Regions from separate parts of the Homo sapiens genome. Here region 2 is linked to region 1. Evidence: fine-mapped expression QTL. Tissue or cell type: whole blood. Region 1 holds a variant in brackets; the other region holds the start of a gene. All regions are shown on one strand. Distances are between the middles of the regions.

Region 1 (5,000 bases):
ATTTAAAATATCTCGGCTACTACTCTGCATCTCCACTGCTACCATCGGCCTCTCCAGTCACATTCTCCAAGAGCACTCTATCTCATTTAAAAGACAAAATCTCTGCAGTGGCCTGTGATGCTCCTTAATGGCCTACATAATCCAGCCCTCAAGCACCTCCGTGATCTCTGTAAAACTTTCCCTTGGTCACTGTGCTTCAGCCACATTAACCAGCTTGCATATTTCTCACATTCACCAAGCTTGTTCCTGCCTTGGGGCCTTTGTACTTACCATGTTCTGTTCTGAGAATACTCTGCCTCAAGATATCCTACAACTATCTTACTGTATTCAGCTCTCTGCTCAAGTATTAACTGATGAAACCTGTCATCCCTACTCCACTCCATGTTCTGCTTTACTTAACAGCAATTGCACATATGGCCCCCTGAATAATATACATTTAGTCACTTATTTTTACTTATCTGCTAATTAAAATGTAGACTTTTTCTATTCTGTTTACTGCTGTATTCCCAGCATGTTTTATCCGAATGTGCAGTGGTTTCTTTTCTTCTCCCTTATCGTGGGAAGTGATGTGCACAAATACACATAATGGAGCCTGAATGTCATATTGCTTTCATACCTGTGTGAATTTTGGTAAGAAAGGAAAAGTAGCGATTGACAGGTAATATAATTACATTAAGTCACTCTCATAGTTAGCTGTTTATTGCTTTCCTGCTCTTATTCTCAGTCCCCAGGACCAAATGTTGACCACTACCTTCCCCCACATATAATTAGGTTATTTACCGAACGCCATGCAGGTGGCTGTTAAAAGGAAGATATATACTTACCTTATAAACTCAACTTTTCCCTGTTGTCTTTCTGTCTCACCCCTACCTCCATGCTTTAAATTAACTTTTCAGGCTTAGGCCTTATCTCTCAGTAGAGCCATATAAGGTATGTGTAAAAGCAGGAAAATGTTTCCTGGGGATGAAGCTTTGAAAAGCTTTTTTTTTTTTTTCTTTTGGCAATAAAATAAGGTAGATTCAGCACAATACCTAATAACTAAAAAATCTGTTTTTAATTGGGTGGGGCAGACAGCAAGTGTGTCATCCTGGAAGATACTATTTGGGATTTTATGTAGGTACATAAGAGAAAAAAGTGAACAAAAGCAAGGGGCTACCAGGACGCCGCAGTATGCTTAACATGTATTTTCTAAGTTTGTATTATGCCTTTATCTTGGTACTTTTATCTTCTGTTCTCACTTGATCTTTTTGAAATGTATTTTAAATCCTAATAAAAATATATAAAGTCTGGAATTAATAAAGGATTAAATGAAACTTTTGTATATCTCACTGAAATTCTCAGAAAAAAGGGGGGTGTGGGGAGGGGGAATTGCCTGGGGTAGTGAGTGAAAATTGTGACCAGGTTCTTACTAAGGAATATGGCAACTGCATAATCAAATGTCAGTGGTTACCAAACTTATGAATCACCTGGTGTTGTGTCATAGATTGTCTATCCTTGCCTCTCGCCCCCAGTGATTTAGATCAGTGGAACTATGTGGGGTTTAAGAAATATACAATATATATTTGTATATATTTGTGTGTCTCGAAAGCTTCAGGGTTAAATAAGTTTTAACTGTTTAGGAAACACTATTGTTTTAGGTATCCAGTCTCAAAGACGAAGGCCTTTAAAACTTACTTAATTTTTCATTACATTTCTTGCCCAGAAAATTGTAAAATACCCAACGATAACAATGGGGAATTGTCTATCAGCACTTGACTAAAAAGCTTTACTATCCATGACAGCAGCCTTTGCATTACTCAATTCTGATGGCATTTAACGTCTTGAAACCCAGAAATAAATACCTATAGACTCACAGTACCTGAAAGGAATACCAAATTGAGACAAGAGAGCTATATAAACCAAAAATTGCTTCAACCACAGAATGGAGGTCTACAGGTGCGGAAGGAAAGTTTATATGGTGAGGCTTGGTCGCAAAACTATTAGGAATATTTTCAGGTTACTACACAATTTTGCGAGCTCAATATGCAGTTAACACTTTTTCCCT[T/C]GACTCTCCTGAGCAGATTTACATTGACCGCACCCGTAGCATATCGTCTCACTTTGGAAAAGGCAAATTATGTGCACATGACCCTGTCACTACAAGGTAGTTCTCGACCAAGCTACATCTTATAGCTTTATCTTATATTCCTCTCCCATCATCTGCAGGAAAAGGGATAGGTGCTGAGGGAAAACCCCTAAGTAGAACTCACAGTAAGCAGTGGGAAAACAGCTTATTTCACTAACGGGGTTAAGTGGCCCTGAAAAGAGCCTTTGGAGACAAAGCAGCCGGCGACCCGCGGAGGGAGGGAGGGAGGGAGCGAGCGAGCGCCAGGTCCCGGCAGGGACTCACTTGGAGCTGGCGTACTTGGTGACCGCCTTGGTGCCCTCGGACACGGCGTGCTTGGCCAGCTCGCCGGGCAGCAGCAGGCGCACGGCCGTCTGGATCTCCGGGACGTGATGGTGGAGCGCTTGTTGTAGTGCGCCAGGCGGGACGCCTCTCCCGCGATGCGCTCGAAGATGTCGTTGAGGAAGGAGTTCATGATGCCCATGGCCTTGCACCAGATGCCGGTGTCGGGGTGGACCCGCTTCAGCACCTTGTACACGTAGATGGAGTAGCTCTCCTTGCGGCTGCGCTTGCGCTTCTTGCCGTCTTTCTTCTGGGCTTTGGTGACGGCTTTCTTGGAGCCCTTCTTGGGAGCCGGCGCGAACTTTGCAGGCTCAGGCATGGCCAGACCCAAGACCGACACCGACCCCCGAGAACGCAAGCAGAGCGGTAGGCTCGGGGTCTACCGGAAACGACTGTGTACTTACAGAGGCTGTGCGCATGACGCTGCGTTATGGTTCGCGAGTTTTCCGCGGCGCGCAATGCGAGGGAGACGAGATTATGTAAATGAGTGGATTCTGGCTGAGCTATCCTATTGGCTATCGGGACAAAATTTGCTTGAGCCAATCAAAGTGCTCCGTGGACAATCGCCGTTCTGTCTATAAAAAGGTGAAGCAGCGGCGTTTTCGGCGACTTTCCCGATCGCCAGGCAGGAGTTTCTCTCGGTGACTACTATCGCTGTCATGTCTGGTCGTGGCAAGCAAGGAGGCAAGGCCCGCGCCAAGGCCAAGTCGCGCTCGTCCCGCGCTGGCCTTCAGTTCCCGGTAGGGCGAGTGCATCGCTTGCTGCGCAAAGGCAACTACGCGGAGCGAGTGGGGGCCGGCGCGCCCGTCTACATGGCTGCGGTCCTCGAGTATCTGACCGCCGAGATCCTGGAGCTGGCGGGCAACGCGGCTCGGGACAACAAGAAGACGCGCATCATCCCTCGTCACCTCCAGCTGGCCATCCGCAACGACGAGGAACTGAACAAGCTGCTGGGCAAAGTCACCATCGCCCAGGGCGGCGTCTTGCCTAACATCCAGGCCGTACTGCTCCCTAAGAAGACGGAGAGTCACCACAAGGCAAAGGGCAAGTGAGGCTGACGTCCGGCCCAAGTGGGCCCAGCCCGGCCCGCGTCTCGAAGGGGCACCTGTGAACTCAAAAGGCTCTTTTCAGAGCCACCCACGTTTTCAAATAAAAGAGTTGTTAATGCTGGCCACTCTCAGTCCAGCGTTCCTCAGTAGTGAATAGCGAACCTGGAGCTGACGGGACGGGACGGGACGGGACGGGACGGGACGGGGCGGGGCGGGGCGGGGTGTGTGTGTGTGCGCGCCGTCTTCCATCTGGAGCACGTAACTGCCTTGGCTCTTCGATGAGTGGGTCCCCAGTCCTAGGACTTCCCAGGGCAGGTGCAGGCACCAAACGTCCTGGGCGCCGCCACGGTCCGCTCCACACAGTCACAAACACCAGCGCCGCGGGCAGTACCCAACGCGCTGAAGTGTTGCGCGCGGAGCGCGCGCTTCCCTAGTGGTTTCCGCAGGCTATGGCCGGACACTTAGACCTAGTCTGGCACCAGCGGGACGTGCTCCTCGTCCCCACCCCCGATGGGGAGGGCCCTGAGCGGGTAGTGCTCGCTAGTGTGGCGGAGCTGGGTCTTGGCTTCACTGAGCTGACTTAAGTCTTAGTTTCTGTTTTGTTTTCCAAAGCGCCCTGGCGGCGGAGAGTAAGGGCCTCGGAGGCGGAATCTTGCGTCCTGGGGGCGGGCACCTCTCCCACCCAAAAGGCACCCGACAGGCGAAAAACGATCCGCCAAGTAGCAACTGGGGGCGGGGGGCAAATGGAAGAATGAGGTTCCACGCGGGAGCTGTAGGGCGCAGCAAGAAAGGGGGGGTATTGCGGGCAGTGTGTTCTAAGGAAGCGAAGGGCGGAAAGGGAACAATCTGACAAAGCTGCAATGGAAAATGACTTTCACCCTGAAGGAAAGGGGAAAAACAAGCTTGCGAAACTTCGCCAACTGGTAAGTAGAAAGTGAGGCGGGGTGGGCGGGATTAGGGAGGAATCTGCCCAAGCCAACCGGTGACTTTAGGACGGGTGACGTCACAGCCAATGGACAGCCAGCGCGGGATTTTCAATTATTGTTCCGCCCAATCGGGAAAAGACTGTGCTTATAAAGACGGCTGCGGCGGGGCTAGGAGCTCGTTTTTCTCCCCGCCGCTGCGCTGGTAAGCCTGTGTTTTGGTTCGCTATGGCCCGTACTAAGCAGACTGCTCGCAAGTCGACCGGCGGCAAGGCCCCGAGGAAGCAGCTGGCCACCAAGGCGGCCCGCAAGAGCGCGCCGGCCACGGGCGGGGTGAAGAAGCCGCACCGCTACCGGCCCGGCACCGTAGCCCTGCGGGAGATCCGGCGCTACCAGAAGTCCACGGAGCTGCTGATCCGCAAGCTGCCCTTCCAGCGGCTGGTACGCGAGATCGCGCAGGACTTTAAGACGGACCTGCGCTTCCAGAGCTCGGCCGTGATGGCGCTGCAGGAGGCCAGCGAGGCCTACCTGGTGGGGCTGTTCGAAGACACGAACCTGTGCGCCATCCACGCCAAGCGCGTGACC
Region 2 (5,230 bases), 74 kb before region 1:
GCTGAGGCGGGCGGATCACAAGGTCAGGAGATCGAGACCATCCTGGCTAACACAGTGAAACCCCGTCTCTCCTAAAAATACAAAAAATTAGCCGGGTGTGGTGGCGGGCACCTGTAGTCCCAGCTACTCGGGAGGCTGAGGCAGGAGAATGGCATGAACCCGGGAGGCGGAGCTTGCAGTGAGCCGAGATTGTGCCACTGCACTCCAGCCTGGGCGACGGAGCAAGACTCTGTCTCAAAAAAAAAAAAAAAAGTTAACTGGGTGTGGTGGCTCGTGCCTGTAGTCCCAGCTACTGGGAAGGCTGAGGCAGGAGAATCACTTGAACACCGGAGGTGGAGGTTACAGTGAGCTGAGATTGCGCCACTGCACTCCAGCCTGGGCGACAGAGTGAGACTCTGTCTCAAAAAAAAAAAAAAAAAGAAAAAGAATGTGTGTTAACCTGAAGACGGGTCAGCAATGAAAGTCTAGTAAAGGGAGAGTCCCTGAGGCCAGTCCAAGCACCATCCTGGAAAGCCGTCACATTCAGAGTAGTCCAGGAGTGCTGGCAAGGCTGCCAATAGCAAAGAGGTGGGGGTAGAAGATTGTTGCCAAGAAGAGTTTTCTGGACCCATTGGCATGGCTGCTTATTGCAGATGGCCAGATGCCATTAAAGATACAAATCCTCCAGTAATGTCATTGTGCATTTATACATTGACATTATGATTCTGATTTGGCTTCAGGGAGAGAATGTACTAGACATGTAGATATGAGTTTTCAGTCTGAGTGACAGTTAAATATTTATGATAAATTAATATTTATGTATTATGGCTTTATATTTCAGAAGATTGTGAACTTTGTTGGCATGAATGATTATTTCCAAGATCCAGCTTTGGAGTCTGCAAAGCCCAGGCCCGTGTCCCTGTCAGAGGTAAATTCAACCTGGCAAATGTTACCTGTGTGGTCTCTTCGGACATAGCCTGTCAGCCTTCTCCATGTATATATATCAGCATTCTGAAGCCTCCACATTTAGTAAGGCAGAATCACACGCTATTAGATCTGAGAGGGACCTGATGCAGTATCTAGTCCAAGCCCCCCTTTTCCAGATGAGAAACCTGAAGTTCACAGATGTGGAGAACTTGACCAAGAGTTGACAGCTTGTTAGCAGTGAGAACCCAGGTCCAAGCCCAGGTCAGTGCTGTCTGGAAGGTCCTGACCTTATCTGGCATAGACACATTCAGGATGTATTTCCCCAAATCACCATATTCCCTCTCACTCCTTCGGCAGGGATGGTCATCAAGTGTCACCAAGTGGCATGTCTTGGATCTCTGAGTCCAGGTTATTGATGCAAGAGCAAAGGAAAGATGAAGGGAAAAGCTGAAACAATTTACTTCTTCCTGCCCGGGAAGTACAAGTGTGTGGAGGGGAGGGGAGGGAGGTAGAGGAGAGTAAGAGAAAATGGAGAAGGGTATTGAGAGGATCCTTTTTGAGTCATTGGAGCAAATTAATGGAAGGGGAACTGTCCGGTTGGTCAGGTCTGTAAAAATCCCTCAACTTCCCCAGTACTTCTGCTACCACCAACTGAATGGACAGGATGAGGAGGTGTCCACTGTAAATAAGTAACCTGGACTGTTTTGTGAGGAAAGAGATGGAAGGAATCCAGGGGTCTCTGACTCTGGCAGTTCAGGATAGAAACCACACCTTGTTATCTCTGCTTTCTCTAAAATGTCCAGGTAAACTTGGAATAGGAGCACTCTGGATTTGGGAGACTGTTGTGAAAAAGGAGTTTGAGAGCAGTGGAGAAGGCAAGGGAGGTGTTTTGAAGGCAGCAAAAGCCCCTGAAATTATTGGGTCCTGCCATACTGAGACTGGGGTGCTAAGGAAGGGGCTGCCACATTCCCCATCTCCCTGTCTTCCCACTTGTCTTCCTAACATCACTGTTTTTTTCTTTAGTTCCTTCTATCTTTTACTAGGAAGGGCCTGGGAAGGGCTGGGTGCCATTTCCAGCTGTTCTTGTGACAACCTCCGGCCCTTTCATCATTTCTCCCCGTGCCCTGACTCCCTCCCCATCCTCTTTTCTCCTCTCCCCACCAATGGTCTCTCCCGATGCTCAGTGGCGCGGGGTAGGGGGGGGCGGAGGCGGGGCTGGAGTGGTGGAAGGGGGGTGGCAGGTCTGCATTGCCGCTTCCCTGGTGCCGGGAGCAGTCGCCGCTGCCGCCTCCGCCCGCGGCCGGGACCCCCGTCCTCGCCCGGGACTCCTTACCCGGGGAACCTAGACCAGGTGAGACCCCTTTCTCAGTCGCTCACCTCCTCCCCGCCCCTGGCAGAAGCATCTTTGCCTTGCCTTGCAGCCATTTTATCCTCCGATGCTTTGCTTATGGGGAGGGTGACGATCCCCTCTCTAGGGGTGAGGGGGGTTGGTGGGTTGGTGGTGGTTTGGGGATGGACATTTATTTCAGTTGTGCTCTTCAGGACACACACACACACACGCATATGTATAATATTGGTGAATGGGGAGGAGGGGTGTTTTTCTCTACCTTAACCAAGTCCCCACTATCCCCTTCGGAGATTAACGTGGTGGTGGGGTTGTGAGGTGGGATGAGGTTCCCTCAAACTCCTATCCCCTCCTCACCTTGACGTCCCCCCACCCCCAGGATGAATGATAAATGACCTTGGCTGGGGCTGGAGAATGGATGCTGCCTCAGTGTGCACGCCTGGACTTGGGTGGGTGGGGGGCAGGGGAAGAAGGGCAGGTGAAGGATGGAGGGAAGGGGAGTGAAGAATGGAAATACTGGGGAGACAGAGATGTAGAGCCGCCAGGTGTTGGGGGCATGGATGGCGGGGGCTGGCGGCAGTTGCTCCGGGGTGGGGGGAAGGGATGTTGAGTGAAGGTGGACACTTGTCTAGCAGCAGGACCAAGGGTGGAGGAGGTGCTCAGAGCAGGGATTTAGTCAGTTCTGGGGGCTTTTCCCTTATTCCGGAGCTGAGGCAAGATGGGGTGTGGGGGGGTCGCTGCAAATGCTGATAGGGGCGGTCTCTATGTCTGTGCATGCGGAGGTCTCTCCCTGCGTCCCCCTCTCTGCCTCTCCGTATTCCTCAGTGTGCATTCTCAGCTGACACCCTCATTTTTATCCCTCAGAACTGTGGGTGCTCCTATCTTCCTAACCTTGGTAGGATGTGGGGAGGGGAGGCGCAGTCTTGATGGTCCTGGGTGGGGGCTGAAGTTCGATGACCGGGCTGTCATGGGGAAGGGGTGCTCCCGCACCTCCCACATTCTACCCCCGCCCCCGCGGACGTTTTGATAAGTGATTGCTTTTTAATGACCTTGTCACCTGAGCTAGGAAGGCCTGGGGATCTGGGTGGACCCCAAAGTCAGGGGCTTTGACTGGGAGGGTGGGGGGTTCTGGACCCAGGGCTGGATGAGCTGTTCTGAAAGAAAGCATTTGCTCTGGAGTCCCCTGCCTGTCTCCACCCTCTGCAGAAAATCTCCTGGGCACATTTTTTCCTGTCAGGTGAAGTCAGCCAGCCTAGGACCTTGTAACCCTGAACCTTGTCTCCTTTAACCTCCACCTCTCCAAGTCTTGTCTCACTCCCCCAGGCTTAGCCACCCTGTGCTGTTTTGGGGGCTAAAAATAGCACCACTTCCTCACCAGCTCAAAGAATTTGTCTTCTTTCTTTCTCTCCTGACCTCCTGGGCTTGCTGGCCCTGAGGAAGCTGGCTGTTGAGACCTCATATCCTGCTGTGGTTGTGGAAGGCTTCCCTGCCCTACGTGCCCCTCTCAGGGGGAAATAGGGTCAACAAACATAGAGTATGGCTCCTGGTGGGTCCTGCCTCCTTCAGGGCTGGAGGGGAGATCCTGGTTAGGAAAGAGAGGAAAGCTAGCAAATTGCCATGCGCTGAGGGGATTCCGCAGTTCCAGCTCTTTCATGGGGGATGGTTGGGCCCTGAACCATGAAGAAAAGGTGACATAGGGGTCACTGCTTCTGGTCACCGTGGTCCACTGCTTACATCTGTCCTGAGGGGATAAGGCGCTGCTTGCCAGTGCTTCTCTCTGAACCACATAGCATTGCTTACCGTCTTCTACCAGGGCGTGTGTGTGTGTGTGCGTGTGTGTGTGTGTGTGTGTGTTTTAATGAAGGCCCTGGATGGGTGGGAGCACCGGAGGCAGGATATTTTTAGGGGGATGATTTCTGATCAGAATCTAGGCCTGCTTCCTCTGCTCCTATGAAGGAAGGGGGCTATCCCATGCCTTCCTCTGGAGAATGTCTTTTTTGGGGGGACACCCAAACCCCCTTTATTCTACATCCGCCTCCTACGCAATGCGGTGTTTGTGGACTCCTTCTTCCTTGACTCCTGGAGGAGGAGCAGAAAGGATTAAGGGGGATTAGGAAGGGAGGCCCTGGAGGGATGGGATGCAACTGTAGGCCTTAGAACCTCATGTTGGAAATGTATGCATTTGACAGTCATTTCCATTCTCACCCCCATCTGTGGAAAGGGGGCCTATCTATGACATTCTGAAGCAAGGTGGCAGTGGACAGTCATCACCTCTTTCTTAGCTTTCCATCTTTCCTCCACTTTACTTGGGTTCCAGGTCCCCCTTTTCTGGATCTTCCCTTGTTCTTCTGGAGGTAGTTAATGTGGGCCCAGCTACTGGAATTAGTTGAAACATAGATAGGGGTGTCTTGGGACTCTGTTTGCAAGGATGCTGGGCAACAGCATCTAAGTATGACCCCCCTGTTGTCCCTTGCTGCTTCCTGTTTCTTTCCCACTTTCAACATCATAGGAAGGAAGAAAACTAACATAGAGTATCTACTGTGAGATTACATTCTCACATCAACTCCAAGAAACAGTCTCCCAATTTAATTATCCCCAGTTAAAATAGATGGACACTGAGGCTTAGGGAGGTTAACTACCCTGACTGAGATCAGTTAGTAAGTGGCAGAGTTGGGATTTCAACTTAGGTCACCCCTAACAGTCATGTGCTTTGCCCTGAACCAGGATTCTCCTTGCCAGTGTCCCTTCCTGCTGCTCACCCTAAAGAGCATCCAAGATAGCTTTCATCTGGGGACCTTATGAGGTAGTATAGGGCATTTCACTATATTACTGTCACCACAAAATTAATAATTAATATTTATTCATCATTTTTATGTGCCAGGTGACTTATGGTAAGGAGCATAGATACATTATATCATTCGACCCTTACTTTCCCCTTTTTAAACAAGAAGAAACTGAGGCTTGGTCCCTTAGCTAGTA

The links. PIP is the estimated chance that this variant, and not a neighbour inherited with it, causes the effect.
Region 2: it holds the start of SV2A, and the variant in region 1 is fine-mapped to the expression of SV2A in whole blood (TOPMed, PIP above 0.99).

Annotation. Positions count from the first base shown.
Region 1 is chr1:149,840,801-149,845,800 of GRCh38, reverse strand. It overlaps H3C14 (H3 clustered histone 14), which reads left to right and starts at 4,593. Exons shown (of 1, transcript NM_021059.3): 1 at 4,593-5,000. The coding sequence starts at 4,644. H2AC18 (H2A clustered histone 18) reads left to right here and starts at 3,051. Exons shown (of 1, transcript NM_003516.3): 1 at 3,051-3,583. The coding sequence starts at 3,103. The coding sequence ends at 3,495. It also overlaps the pseudogene H2BC19P and a transcript of H4C15 not described here. RefSeq lists enhancers at 1-476, 4,752-5,000. The variant T/C (reference allele first, on the strand shown) is at 2,045.
Region 2 is chr1:149,914,766-149,919,995 of GRCh38, reverse strand. It overlaps SV2A (synaptic vesicle glycoprotein 2A), which reads left to right and starts at 2,152. Exons shown (of 13, transcript NM_014849.5): 1 at 2,152-2,257. RefSeq lists a silencer at 2,239-2,308.